Regions from separate parts of the Homo sapiens genome. Here all the other regions are reported to be linked to region 1. Evidence: microRNA targets listed by miRTarBase, many of them from high-throughput screens and not tested one by one. Region 1 holds a microRNA gene; each other region holds the end of a gene's coding sequence.
Evidence for each region. The annotated mature microRNA hsa-miR-5695 reads ACUCCAAGAAGAAUCUAGACAG and lies in region 1 at 1,281-1,302, shown strand. An mRNA with a match to its seed (bases 2 to 7 or 8) in the 3' UTR can be bound and repressed. Matches are read on the target gene's strand: a 7mer-m8 pairs with bases 2 to 8, a 7mer-A1 pairs with bases 2 to 7 and ends in A, and an 8mer does both.

Region 2: the mRNA of ZNF248 is a reported target of hsa-miR-5695. Seed matches in the 3' UTR shown: 7mer-A1 at 1,038-1,044.
Region 3: the mRNA of POLM is a reported target of hsa-miR-5695. The part of its 3' UTR that is shown has no 7-base or 8-base seed match.

Annotation. Positions count from the first base shown.
Region 1 is chr19:12,919,093-12,923,345 of GRCh38, forward strand. It overlaps MIR5695 (microRNA 5695), which reads left to right and starts at 1,228; the gene lies at 1,228-1,312. It overlaps SYCE2 (synaptonemal complex central element protein 2), which reads right to left and starts at 201. Exons shown (of 6, transcript NM_001105578.2): 1 at 151-201. The coding sequence starts at 165. FARSA (phenylalanyl-tRNA synthetase subunit alpha) reads right to left here. Exons shown (of 13, transcript NM_004461.3): 13 at 3,387-3,794. The coding sequence ends at 3,656. RefSeq lists an enhancer at 1-20.
Region 2 is chr10:37,828,096-37,832,388 of GRCh38, forward strand. ZNF248 (zinc finger protein 248) reads right to left here. Exons shown (of 6, transcript NM_021045.3): 6 at 668-4,293. The coding sequence ends at 3,520. Among named protein-coding and RNA genes, the nearest start is that of ZNF248, 27 kb to the right of the region's middle.
Region 3 is chr7:44,069,785-44,073,925 of GRCh38, forward strand. It overlaps POLM (DNA polymerase mu), which reads right to left. Exons shown (of 11, transcript NM_013284.4): 9 at 3,999-4,141; 10 at 3,841-3,924; 11 at 2,278-3,593. The coding sequence ends at 3,507. It overlaps MIR6838 (microRNA 6838), which reads right to left and starts at 3,649; the gene lies at 3,594-3,649.

The DNA of each region.
Region 1 (4,253 bases):
AAATTTGAGGCCAGGCCTGATGAGAGGGAGCCCCAATGGCAAAGGACAAGCGGCCGGGCTCGGGTCCGCTGGAGATGGCTGGGATCGCAGCCGTTCCCTGCCTATCTGTCCGCCCGCCCCACGCGCGAGAAGGAAACAAGCGCCGCGTACTCCCTGTCGCTCCATTCCGTATTTTCCCGCCTTCAAGCTCGCACCCTCTGCGCATGCGCCGACCCCGCCCCTGGCCAGCTGCGCTCCCGCGGACGAGTGTGTTGTGACGCGTGCTCCCGGCCCCGCCCTCTTTGAGAACTTGCGCGGCCAACTGGGCGGGGCCGACCGTTAAGCAGCAGTTTCGCGGTCCGCGGGCTGCGCGCGCAGTCGGCGCCCCTTGGGAGCAGGACGGCGCGCTCTGGGTGCGCTTGTGTGCCCCTGTGAGGCTCCTGGGTTCCACGGGGCGCCCAGGTTATACGGATCTCAGAGTCCTGTATTTATTCGGTGCTTCTAACTTCATCCACTCTGCCTTGGAAAATATACTCCATAACAATTTTTTTTTTTTTTTGAGACAAGATCTTGGTCTGTCGCCCAGGCTGGAGTGCAGTGGTGCGATCACAGCTCACTGTAGCCTCGACCTCCCAGGTTCAAGCGATCCTCCTGCCTCGGCCTCCTGAGTAGCAGTGTCATTCACCAGGCCCTTCTAATTTAAAAATATTTTTCTGGCCGGGCGCGGTGGCTCACGCCTGTAATCCCAGCACTTTGGGAGGCCGAGGCGGGTGGATCACCTGAGGTCATGAGTTCGAGACCAGCCTAGCCAACATGGTGAAACTGTCTCTACTAAAAATACAAAAAATAGCCGGGCGTGGTGGCGGGCGCCTATAGTCCCAGCTACTCGGGAGGCTGGGGCAGGAGAATTGCTTAAACCCAGGACGCAGAGGTTGCAGTGAGCTGAGATCATGCCACTGCACTCCAGCCGGGGTGACAGAGTAAAGCTCCGTCTCAAAAAAAAAAAAAAGATTGTATGTATATATACACACACACACACACACACACACACACATAATTATATTTTTTTTTCCTGTAGAAATGAGATCTCACTGTGCTGAGCCCAGGCTGATCCCCAACTCCTGGGCTCAAGCCGTCCTCCCGTCTTGGTCTCCCAAAGTGCTGTCTCAAAAAAAGAAGAAATTATCTGATCTACCCTATTGACTGTAGGTCATAAGACCCCCGTTTCAAAGAAGTTTCTGCCCCACACAAGGCCTATCTATCTAGATTCTTCTTGGCCTCTCTGAGCATGCATTCCTGAGACTCCAAGAAGAATCTAGACAGATAGGCCTTGCTGGGTTTCCCCACTCAGCCTATTAGTATTAGACGACCCCCCCGGCTTTTTTTTTTTTTTTTTTTTTTTGTCTTGCTCTGTTGTCCAGGCAACACTGGAGTGCAGTGGCAAGATCTCAACTCGCTGCAACCTTGGCCTCCCAGGTTCAAGCGATTCTCAGCCAACCAAGTAGCTGGGATTACAGATGCACCATGCCCAGCTAATTTTTGTATTTTTAGTAGAGATGGGGTTTTTCCATGTTGCTCAGGCTGGTCTCAAACTCCTGGCCTCAAGTGATCCACCCGCCTCAGCCTCCCAAAGTGTCAGGATTACAAGTATGAACCACGACAAACCCTTTTTGTCCAATCAAATTTCTACCTGGGTGTTCAAACTTTGCTGAACCTAAGCATAAGACACTTTTCATTAATCAGGCATGGTGGCGGGCACCTGTAATCCCAGCTGCTTGGGAAGCTGAGGCTGCTGTGAGCCAAGATCGCCCCTACACTCCAGCCCAGGGAACAGAGCCAGACTCCGTCTCAAAACAAAACAAAACAAAAACACAGTTTCCCCTGTATCTCTGGATCTTCATTCTGAAGGCTTGTCAGGTAACACTATGATCAAATACATTCGTATTCCTTTTCTCTTATTAATCTGCCTTTTCTCAGTAATTTTTAGTGAAACTTCAGAGGGCAATAAGGAAGCTTTCTCTTCACCCCTACACAGCCAAAGTTCAGATTTGATGGAAATGGCAAGATTCCAGGGTACTTGTGTTTATTTAGACACATAAATATGTATTTAACGACAGGGTCTCACTCTGTTGCCCAGGCTGGAGTGCAGTGGTGTAATCACGGCTCATTGCAGCCTCGACCTCCCAGGCTCAAGTGATCAACCTCAGTCTCTGGAGTACCTGGGATTACAGGCATGAGCCACTATGCTGAGCTAATTTTTGTTTTCTGTTTTTGGGGGACAGGTCTCACTCTGTGGCCCAGACTGGAGTGCAGTGGTGTGATCTCAGCTCCCTACAACCTCCACCTCCTGGGTTCAAGTGATTCTCCCACCTCAGCCTCCCAGATAGCTGGGACTACAGGTGCCTGCCATCATGCCTGCTAATTTTTGTTTTTTGTTTTTTTTTTTGGAACAGAGTCTTCTTCTGTCACCCAGGCTGTAGTGCAGTGGCACAATCTTGGCTCACTGCAACCTCCACCTCCTGGTTCAAACGATTCTCGTGCCTCAGCCTCCCGGGTAGCTGGGACTACAGGTGCTCACCACCACGCCCAGCTTTTTTTTTGTATTTTTAGTAGAGACGGGTTTTCACCACGTTGGCCAGGCTGCTCTCGAACTCCTGACCTCAAGTGATCTGCCTGCCTCAGCTTCCCAAAGTGTTGGAATTACAGGCGTGAGCCACCACGCCCAGCCTAATTTTTTTTTTTTTTTTTTTGAGACGGAGTCTTGCTCTATTGCCCAGGCTGGAGTGCAGTGGTGCGATCTCCGCTCACTGCAAGCTCCGCCTCCCAGGTTCACACCATTCTCCTGCCTCAGCCTCCTGAGTAGCTGGGACTACAGGCACCCGCCACCACGCCCGGCTAATTTTTTGTATTTTTAGTAGACAGGGTTTCACCATGTTGGCCAGGATGGTCTCAATCTCTTGACCTCATGATCCACACGCCTCAGCCTCCCAAAGTGCTGGGATTACAGGCATGAGCCACCGCACCCAGCCCTAATTTTTTTATTTTTAGTAGAGATGGGGTTTCACCACGTTGGCCAGGCTGCTCCTGAATTCCTGACCTCAAGTGACCCACCCACCTTGGCCTCCCAAAAGTTCTGGGATTACAGAAGTGAGCCACTGTGCCTGGCTCAGTACCCATACTTTTTTTTTTTTTTTTTGTATTTTTAGTAGAGACGGGGTTTCACCCTGTTAGCCAGGATGGTCTCGATCGCCTGGCCTCGTGACCCGCCCGCCTCAGCCTCCCAAAGTGCTGCGATTACAGACGCGGGCCACCTCGCCCAGCCCAGTACCCAGAATTTTGACCATCAAGTGGCACACTGAGCTAGGGGGACCCAACAAGACCCCTCACCCCTAAGGAAAGCCACCAGATGGGGGCAACTGCCCACTTTATTAGACAATAGGTGGCCCACAGGTCTCCTCAGGGCCCACCCTCACAGTAGACACACCACACAGGACAACAGAAGGAACCTGCTACCCAGTCCTCTGTCCCTGGGATTCTGGTCCTGGGACAGGTGGGAAAGAGGAAGGTGGGGGCTGGCCTCACAGAGGCCTCATAAATACAAGGTCACTGGCCAGGGATGCAAAGGAGCGCAGCAGCAGGGACTCGGGGAGGATGACCTGTCCTAGAGTGGCCCATGTCACGCAGCCTCCTGTGTGGGAGGGGGCCTCGGCTCGGCATCCAGGCGGCACAGGGGACTGTCATACACCATCTGCAGGTTCACCTTGTGGCCCACCAGCTCCCGGATATTGTTGATGCCATATTTGATCATCGTTGGGCTTGTGGGGGAGGGAACAGAGTTTATCATGAGGTCAGCACGTGCACCCTTCTGCTCAGATTTCCATGGCTCCCATCTTCTTCAGAGGAAAAGTTCAAGTTCTCCCCATGACCCACAGGGCCCTGCGCCAACTGCTCTATCACCTCTCACCCTCCGCCTTCAGCCACACCAGCCTCCTCACTCTTCTCCTAATACAAAAAGCACATTCCCACCTCTGGGCCTTTGAACTGACTGTGACCACTACCTGGGACACCCTTCCCCAGATACTCTCATGGTTTACCTCTTTATCTACCTCTAGATTTTGCTTAGGTGGCACTTCTTCCTCCATGATGCCTTCACTGACCACGTAGTTGCCTTAGCCCTCCCTATACCACTTACTGCCCTGGTACACACTTCTGTCTTCTTTTGCTGAGTGCATTTGTTTTTTTGAAACAGAGTCTCACTCTGTAACCTAGGGTGG
Region 2 (4,293 bases), not on the chromosome of region 1:
TTAATAGAATGCAGTATAAGAGAAAATATCAAAGTACATTACAGGTAATTAGGGTAAGGGTCTCACGAAACAGAATTTGTTGGTTTACATGCATGTGTTAGATACACACATGTGAACACACTCTTCTTCGAGATCTTATCCACATCACTCCTCCCTCAATGTAGCCTGCTCAGTGAGGTCTTTTCCTCTCCATCCTATCTAAAATCAAACCTTGTATCTGACAACTTTTCCTATTTTGATTTTTCTTTATGGCGCTTATCATAGCCATCTTCTTTTCTTTTTTCATTTTTGTGTTGTGGACTGACTTTCAATAGATTACAGAGCAAATGTACTTTCTCAATATGACTGCTGGAAGCAATAAGGACACAAACTCTCTGGTCTACAGTGACCTCCCAATAAAAATATTCTAGGAGGGCTTGTCACTGGCCTATTTTACAACAAACTATCATTTCTGGATCAATACAAATGTGGAGGACATGAAGACACAGTACTCTGCAGAGCCAGGATTGGGGTAAATGCCACCCCGTGATCACAATGACATGTTCTATTACTAGAAGAATGCAGAAAAGTTGCATTGAGCAGTCAAAAGCAATAGTCATAACACATATTTAAGTACATAATAAAAATGTATCAAACTAACACAAGAAAGGGTGAATTAATCAAACAGTGCAGGGACAACTGGCTATTTATTTGGAAGAATACAGAGCTGCTTACCTTACACCACATACAATAAGAAACACCACAGGGAGGTATGAATAATGTAATTTAATATAATGTCTGCTTCACACATGTTGAAGGAGAGACATACCTGTGTAGTTCCAAAGGGAGTTTACTTATGCTAACAGGAAAGCAGAACAAACAGAAACACTTAACTTGCAACTAGTAGAATAACTTTATTTCTAACACTGAGCCTTCTACATAGGAATTTACAGAAATGAATAACACTGTGCTGCTTATTCTCCATTTCTCTTCCCAGATTCTCTCTCCACCCTTCTCTGTGCCCACCTGGGCTCTCCAGCAGATGTATCTGGTTGGTTTCTCCAAAGAGAGACACCAGCAATTTGGCACCACAGTTCTGGTAGTAATGATGTCTCTTACAAGGTGGCCCCTCCTTCATGACAGCAGTTCTTACTGGGCTCTGGTAACACTGTTTCCCTCCTTGCCCTTCAAGGCTCAGAATGGCAATGGCTTCCTGCTGATACAAGTCTCTGGGTGTTTCACTGTCCCTTGTTTCTGGCCCACACCACTGTAATCAGTCTGCCATTAAAATATTTTTAGTTGGAGAATTCTGTTTTCCACCAGAAAGAACCATGGCTGATACAAACAGCCATCCCTATATTAACTTGTGAAAAGAAATAATTCTTCCCCCTAATTACCATATAGAACATTAACACTTAGAAAAATATTCCTCTGTGTCAGCTGGAATGCCTTCAGCTCTAAGTATCAGACAGCCCTAAGACCAAATAAAAAACAGTTATTGAGGGTTATAAAAAGTCCCAGTAGAGAACAGGTATAGAGAGCAGAGTAGCTCGGCAACGTCACCTCTGAGCTGGCTTTTCCCACCTTGTGCACTGTTATCTTCAGGCTACTGCCCTTCAGAGATAAAAACGATAAGCCAATACCATGTTACAGACATGAAAAAGCCCAGCAGAGTCTCTTCTCATGTCATGACAATGTTGTATCAAGGAGATCTTTCCCAGAAGTACTACACAATACTTCCCAAACATCTCATTGCTCCCAAGTTCACCCCAACAGAATCATTAAAATGGAACTTCCATGATTAGCTTTGACTAATCTGGACTTACCACCTAAGTCATCTGGGAGAAGGATGCACAAAAATATAAAATTTAGCTCAGCAAGGATGAAGTAGGGAATGGCCATCATGTGGGCAGTGTCTCTTAGAACTGCTGACCAATGTGTTCCAAGGGGGCAAAAGAAACAACAGGACAAGGGAGGCAGAGATACTCTAAAATACTAATACGCAGAACTAGTGTTACATAGACCGTGCCCAAACAGATACACAATGAAAAATCAAGGATATCAAAAGGGCCTTTCATTACATACCGCCACTTTTTGAGGAGTGCAGTGTTACTGCTTGTTAACCTTTGCATAATTTATGTAAAAACCATTCTTATTAACAACATTTACATTACAGAATGACCCAGAGGTAGCTGAAAAACCTCAGAAAAGTACTGTTTAACTTCTTTACTGAAGTGATAGTTCAATAATGGCCATATTCATGCATATATGCCAGGAAACAGTCAGAGGAAAGGTACGTGATATAGTTCTTTGTGAAATAATATTTCACTAAAAACATATACTGGCCAACCTACAAAGAGACTCCGGTAGTATTTAGAGTAGGACAGATTCAGAGGTAGTTAAAAACCTCACGGAAATATTTTTGGCTTCTTTCTTGAAGACGTGGTTCAGCTGTAAATGGCCATAGCCATTTATTTATGTCAGGAAATAGAAGGGGTATGTGGTTTGTATTGCCAAATACGTTTTCATATATACACAGTGATGTGCTGTAAATATTTGACAGCAGGTTCTCTGAGAAAATTAAAACCCTGATTTATAGTTTGTCAATTTCCATGGTGTAAACACTCCCACTAAGTCCAAGCTACCAAGACAGCACTGAATGTGGAGCTGGGAAGAGACAGATGTGCAGTGCACACTATTATACAGTATTTTCATCATACAGATTAAATAAGTAAAACAGCAAAGGTAATAGTGAAATGTAGCAAAATAATTAGGAAGTGATGAGTGCTGAGTATTTATTACCTTTGTTTTTAACTGTAAGTTTACATATTTTAAATAATGACTGCTTTTAATAACTGGCTCACAAAATTCCTTAAAATTTAACAATCAGAACTTTTAAGTCAGTATGAGGTTATACTAGCACATCACTATATTTAAGTATGTGTGTAGAAATATATTTACATATACACACAAACATATGTACATACACATATATAATTATGTCAACCTATAAAGACACCAATGGTATTTAGTGTAGAAAATATTAACAAATACCATAGTAGTTACTCAATTAAGGGTACGTATCTTCTCCTTATGATCATGTTGAGTTCCAATATACAAATCAAGCATACTCAAATTTATATATTTGCATACTCACATAAGGTCTACAAACATCGGGGACTCTTCACATATATGTTTAATGCTGCTGTCATTCAACTTTTATAAGCTTCAGATTCCACTGTGAATATGGGTATAAATAAATATTGTCCATTATATTTGCAACAAAATTTTGGTATCACGTCTGGAATATAACACTAAACAACATAAATTCCAGATAAATATTTTCACCATATTACTTAGATGAATAGAATTCCCCTCAGTACAAATTTTCTAATGAAAAGTTTTAATTTTTCTTGAAAGCTTTTACATATTCAAACAAGAAGTCATTTTCTACAAATTTCTGACATTCTTTGGCTTTCTCTGATCTCCTTTTTTGAAACTGTATAACCAATTTCACAAGTGTATGAAGGCTTCTAACATTCAGGATGTTGAAAGAGCTTTCACCCTTGTGTGAATTCTCTGATGTTTGGTGAGCACTGACCTCTGACTAAAGGTCTTCCCACATGCATTACACTCATACGGCTTCTCCCCTGTGTGAGTCCTCTGATGTTTAGTGAGAGCTGATTTTTCACAGAAGGTTTTCCCACATTCATTACACTTATATGGTTTCTCCCCAGTGTGAGTTCTTTGATGTACAATGAGGTTTGACTTCACACAGAAGGATTTTCCACATTCATTACATATAAACGGTTTCTCCCCTGTGTGTGTTCTCTGATGCACAGTGAGGGCTGATCTGTGGCAGAAGGATTTCCCACATGCATTACATTCATAGGGCTTCTCCCCTGTGTGTGTTCTCTGATGTTCAGTGAGGTTTGACTTCACACAGAATGTTTTTCCACATTGCTTACATTCATAGGGTTTTTCTCCTGTATGTGTTCGCTGATGGTTGGTCAGGTGTGGTTTCTGGCAAAAGGCTTTCCCACATTCAGTACATTCATAGGGCTTCTCTCCTGTGTGTGTTCTCTGATGTTGAGTGAGGTTTGACTTCTCCCAGAAGGTTTTCCCACATTCACCACATTCAAAGGTTTTTTCTCCTGTGTGAGCTCTCCGAAGCTGGGTAAGATGTGACTTCTTGCTGAAATTACTCCCATTTTCATTGTAATCATAAGACTTTCCCCCCATGTGTACTATTTGATGTTTTAAGAGAGCTGACTTTTCCCAGGTTTTGTCACTCACTTTATATTCACGGAGAAT
Region 3 (4,141 bases), not on the chromosome of region 1:
CCACTATGTGTGTGTGTTGGGGGTGTGTGTGTGTGTGTATAGGGAGAAGGAGAGATAGGAGGGAAGGAAAAAAGGAAAGAAGAAACAGCAATGGAAAACAGGGAACAAACAGAAAACAACATAATGGTAGATCTAAAGCCAAACATTTCAATAGTTGCATTAAACATAAATGGCCTCATCACGCCAATTCGACATATTATCAGTTTGGATTATAAAAACCTAATTATATGCTGTCTTTAAGTAACTCACATTAAATATAACAGGATACAAGTAGGTTGAAGTAAAAGGTAACAACTCATTCTCTGAGGGCAGTATTACCCTGATACCAAACCCAGACAAACAACCTAAGGAAACTACAGACCAACCTCTTATGAGTACATATGCAAAAATTGAGAGTCCAGGGAAAAATCCTTCACACAATGGTTAATTGATTTTTGACAAGGGTGCCAAAATAATTCAATGAGTAAAGAATAGTATCTTTAACAAATGGTGCTGGGACAACTGGATTTCCACGTGCAAAACAATGAATCCCCACTTTACACTTATATAAAAATTAACTCAAGGCCGGGCACTGTGGCTCACACCTGTAATCCCAGCACTTTGGAAGGCCGAGGTGGGCAGATCACGAGGTCAGGAGATCCAGACCATCCTGGCTAACACGGTGAAACCCCGTCTCTACTAAAAATATAAAAAATTAGCCGGGCGTGGTGGTGGGTGCCTGCAGTCCCAGCTACTCGGGAGGCTGAGGCAGGAGAATGGTGTGAACCCGGGAGGCAGAGCTTGCAGTGAGCCGAGATCGCACCACTGCACTCCAGCCTGGGCGACAGAGCGAGACTCCGTCTCAAAAAAAAAAAATTAGCTGGGCTTGGTGGCTTGTGCCTGTAGTCCTAGCTACTTGGGAGGCTGAGGCAGGAGGATTGCTTGAGCACAGGAGTTTGAGACTGCAGTGAGCTATGATCATACTACTGCACTCCAGCCTGGGTGACAGAGCAAGACCCTGTTTCTGGGGAAAACAAAGAAACAAACTATAAAAGAAAGCAAAGAAAATCTTTGTGATTTGGGGTCAGAGATAGGACTCCAAAAACATAAGAAAAAAACTGGTAAACTGAATAAATTGATAAACTGGACTTCACAAAAATTAAATACATTTACTATGAAAAAAACAGTGCTAAAAGAAGAAAGATAGTCTACACACTGGGAAAAAATATTTACCAGTCACCATAGTGGCACATAAAGAACTCTCAAGATTGAACAGTAACAGATGGGCATGGTGGCTCATGCCTGTAATCCTAGCACTTTGGGTTTTGCCATGTTGGCCAGGCTGGTCTCGAACTCCTGACCTCAGGTGATCCACCCACCTTGGCATCCCAAAGTGCTGGGATTACAGGTGTGAGTCACCATGCCTGGCCAACAATTCCATTTTTAAAAATGAGACTTGAACAGCCACTTCACCAGTGAGGACATAGAAGCCAGTGAACAGATGTTCAACGTTATCAGGCATTAGGGAAATGAAAATAAAACCACAGTGAGCTACTGTTATGTACCTACTACTAGAAAAGCTAAAGTTAACAAATACTGCAACTATCAAGTGCTGACAGGGATACAGAGCAACTGCCTACTGTGGTGTTTAACTTACAGGGGTGCTCACAACGCTGGTGGACTGCAAAATGACAGACGCACTCGGGACAACAACTTGGCTCTTATGAAATAAACATATACTTACCAAATGACCCAGTAATCCTGTGCCTATTTACCCAAGAGAAATGAAGACCCATGTGTTACACGAAAACCTGTACATGCATGTCTGTAGCAGTACGATTCATCATCTCCAAACCCTGGAAACAACCCAGACTTTTTTTCTTTTTAGGCAGACTCTTGCTCTGTCGCCCAGGCTGGAGTGCAGTGGCACAATCTCAGCTCACTGCAACCTTGGCATCCCAGGTTCAAGCAATTCTTATGCCTCAGCCTCCCGTGTAGCTGGGAATACAGGTATGAGCCAACATGCCCAGCAAATTTTTGTATTTTTTGTAGAGATGGGGTTTCGCCATGGTGGCCAGGCTGGTCTCAAACTCCTGGCCTCAAGTGATCCACCCGTCTCAGCCTCCCAAAGTGCTAGGATTACAGGCATGAGCCACGGCATCCGGCCACAACCCAGACATTCAACACCTGAATGGATAAACTGTAGAACACCCATGGCATGGAACAAATTACAAACTCAACATACCCAGCAACCTGCAGGAACGTCAAAGGCATTAGGCTGTGGGGAGAGGCCAGTCCAAAGGTTAAATATAGTTTGGTTCTATTTACATGACATTCTAGAGAAAGCAAAACTATAGGGATGTAGCACCGCTAAGTGGGTGGGGGTGGAGAAGCACATGACCACAATAGGACAGCATGGGAAGTGTTCTGGGGATGGACCTGGTGTGCCCTACGTGTGCAAAAACTGCACCCCAAGAGTCAACTTTACTGCATGTTTTCAAAATATTTTTTAATGTGATGAGTGGTCTGGGAAATCCTCGCCTAACAAAGTGGCTTTTGATTCAAGGCCTGAAGAAGGGGAGGGCCCACTCCAGGTAGATGACATGGCCAGGGCAAAACCTGAGGCCAGAGTGTGCCTGGGGATATGAGGGACGTGGAGGGCACCCATGTCCAGCCCACCTCAGTGCTTCTGCCTCAGTGAGAAGGGGAGGGAGTTGGCCACAAGGGGGCCTGGGTGCATCAAATAGGAAGCCGGTGAGTCAAGCAGCTCGGGGCCAGTGGGGCTGGAGAGATGCCAGAGCCAGGGGCTATGTGTGGACTTAGGGTTTGGAACCATTAAAGGGCTCTGCGACGGGAGTGGCAGGATATGACCTATTTTTGAGACATTGTGCTGAGAACAGGCCTTAAAGGCAGAAGCACAGAGCCTGGCTCGGGGCGCTGCAGTACTGAAGCCCCATAGTTGAAAATTATCTTCCTCCCAGCTCCTACCCAGGCCCTCTCCCTCTCCAGATGCCTACAGCACACCAGACAGTAGGCTCCTTGCTGGCACGAACCACAGCCTCCAGCTCATGGCTCTCAAATGCAGTGCAGGTATGCATGGTTCTCTTCTGGGCATTCTGGGCAGGGTGCCCTGCAGGAGCCACAGTTAACTGCAGTGCAACTAATGAGACACTGCACATCAGGGACCACTTGCCATTCATGACTGCAGGCCCCACCACAGCTCCACGATGTGGGCCCCACTCACATCCCATCCAGGGCAGGAACGTGAGCCATGGGGAGGCTAAGAGCAGACCCAGGGTCACACAGTGATGAGGCTGGCACTGAGGGCTCCCACCTCATCACACCCTGCAGCACACCAGCAGGGGCTCAACTGATCCTGCAGGCACAATTGACCTCCGGAAGAGCCAGGCCTTGGCGGGGAGGGGTGAAGGTGGGGGTCAGGGGGCAGCATATCTGCCTGGAGACATTCAGTGGCCAGGTTGGGGGCAGCCCAATTTCCTGAGTGGAAGTGGGGGACACAGGCAGGCTCAGGCGTTTCTCTGCTCTGGAGGAAGGTACTCAAGGCCCAGGTGTCTGAAGATGTCTTCCTCTGAAGCCGCTTGGAAAAATGTCTTCTGCAACAGAAGCAGGACTTCCGTGACCTAGGAGTCTTGCCACTGCTGCTTCCCTGCAGGAAGACTGAGGGTGGGGAAGAGCCCAGCGCCGAGGTGGGGTGTGCTCTTGAGGGCCAGGAACTGTGTGTGGAGACCCAGATTCGGGTCCTATGGGTTTCAGGCTGGAGGGGTCTGGGGCCATTTCAGATTGTGGGTCAGGGAGCGGACTATGGGTGCTGTTTGCTGTCCCCAGTCCCCAACAATGTACCTGCTCCGGGTCAAACAGCCCATGGCTGTTCAGCCACAGGCCCTTCTCCTTCCGGCTGAAGCGGCGCAGCTCCCGCTGGAAAAGCTGTAGGGAAGGGATTGTCCTCAGCAGGGCTGGCCCAGCCCCACCCCCAGGCGGCCCAGCGGCACACTGCCTACCTTGGAGCCAGTCCAACCGAGCAGGGCGAAAGGGAACTGGCTGACGGGTGCAACTACCAAGTCCACTCTCACGGCCTTCCAGGATGGGCAGGGCCTCGTGGATCCCCCCACAGCAGCCCCTGGAGGTTGTGGTAGGCGGAAAA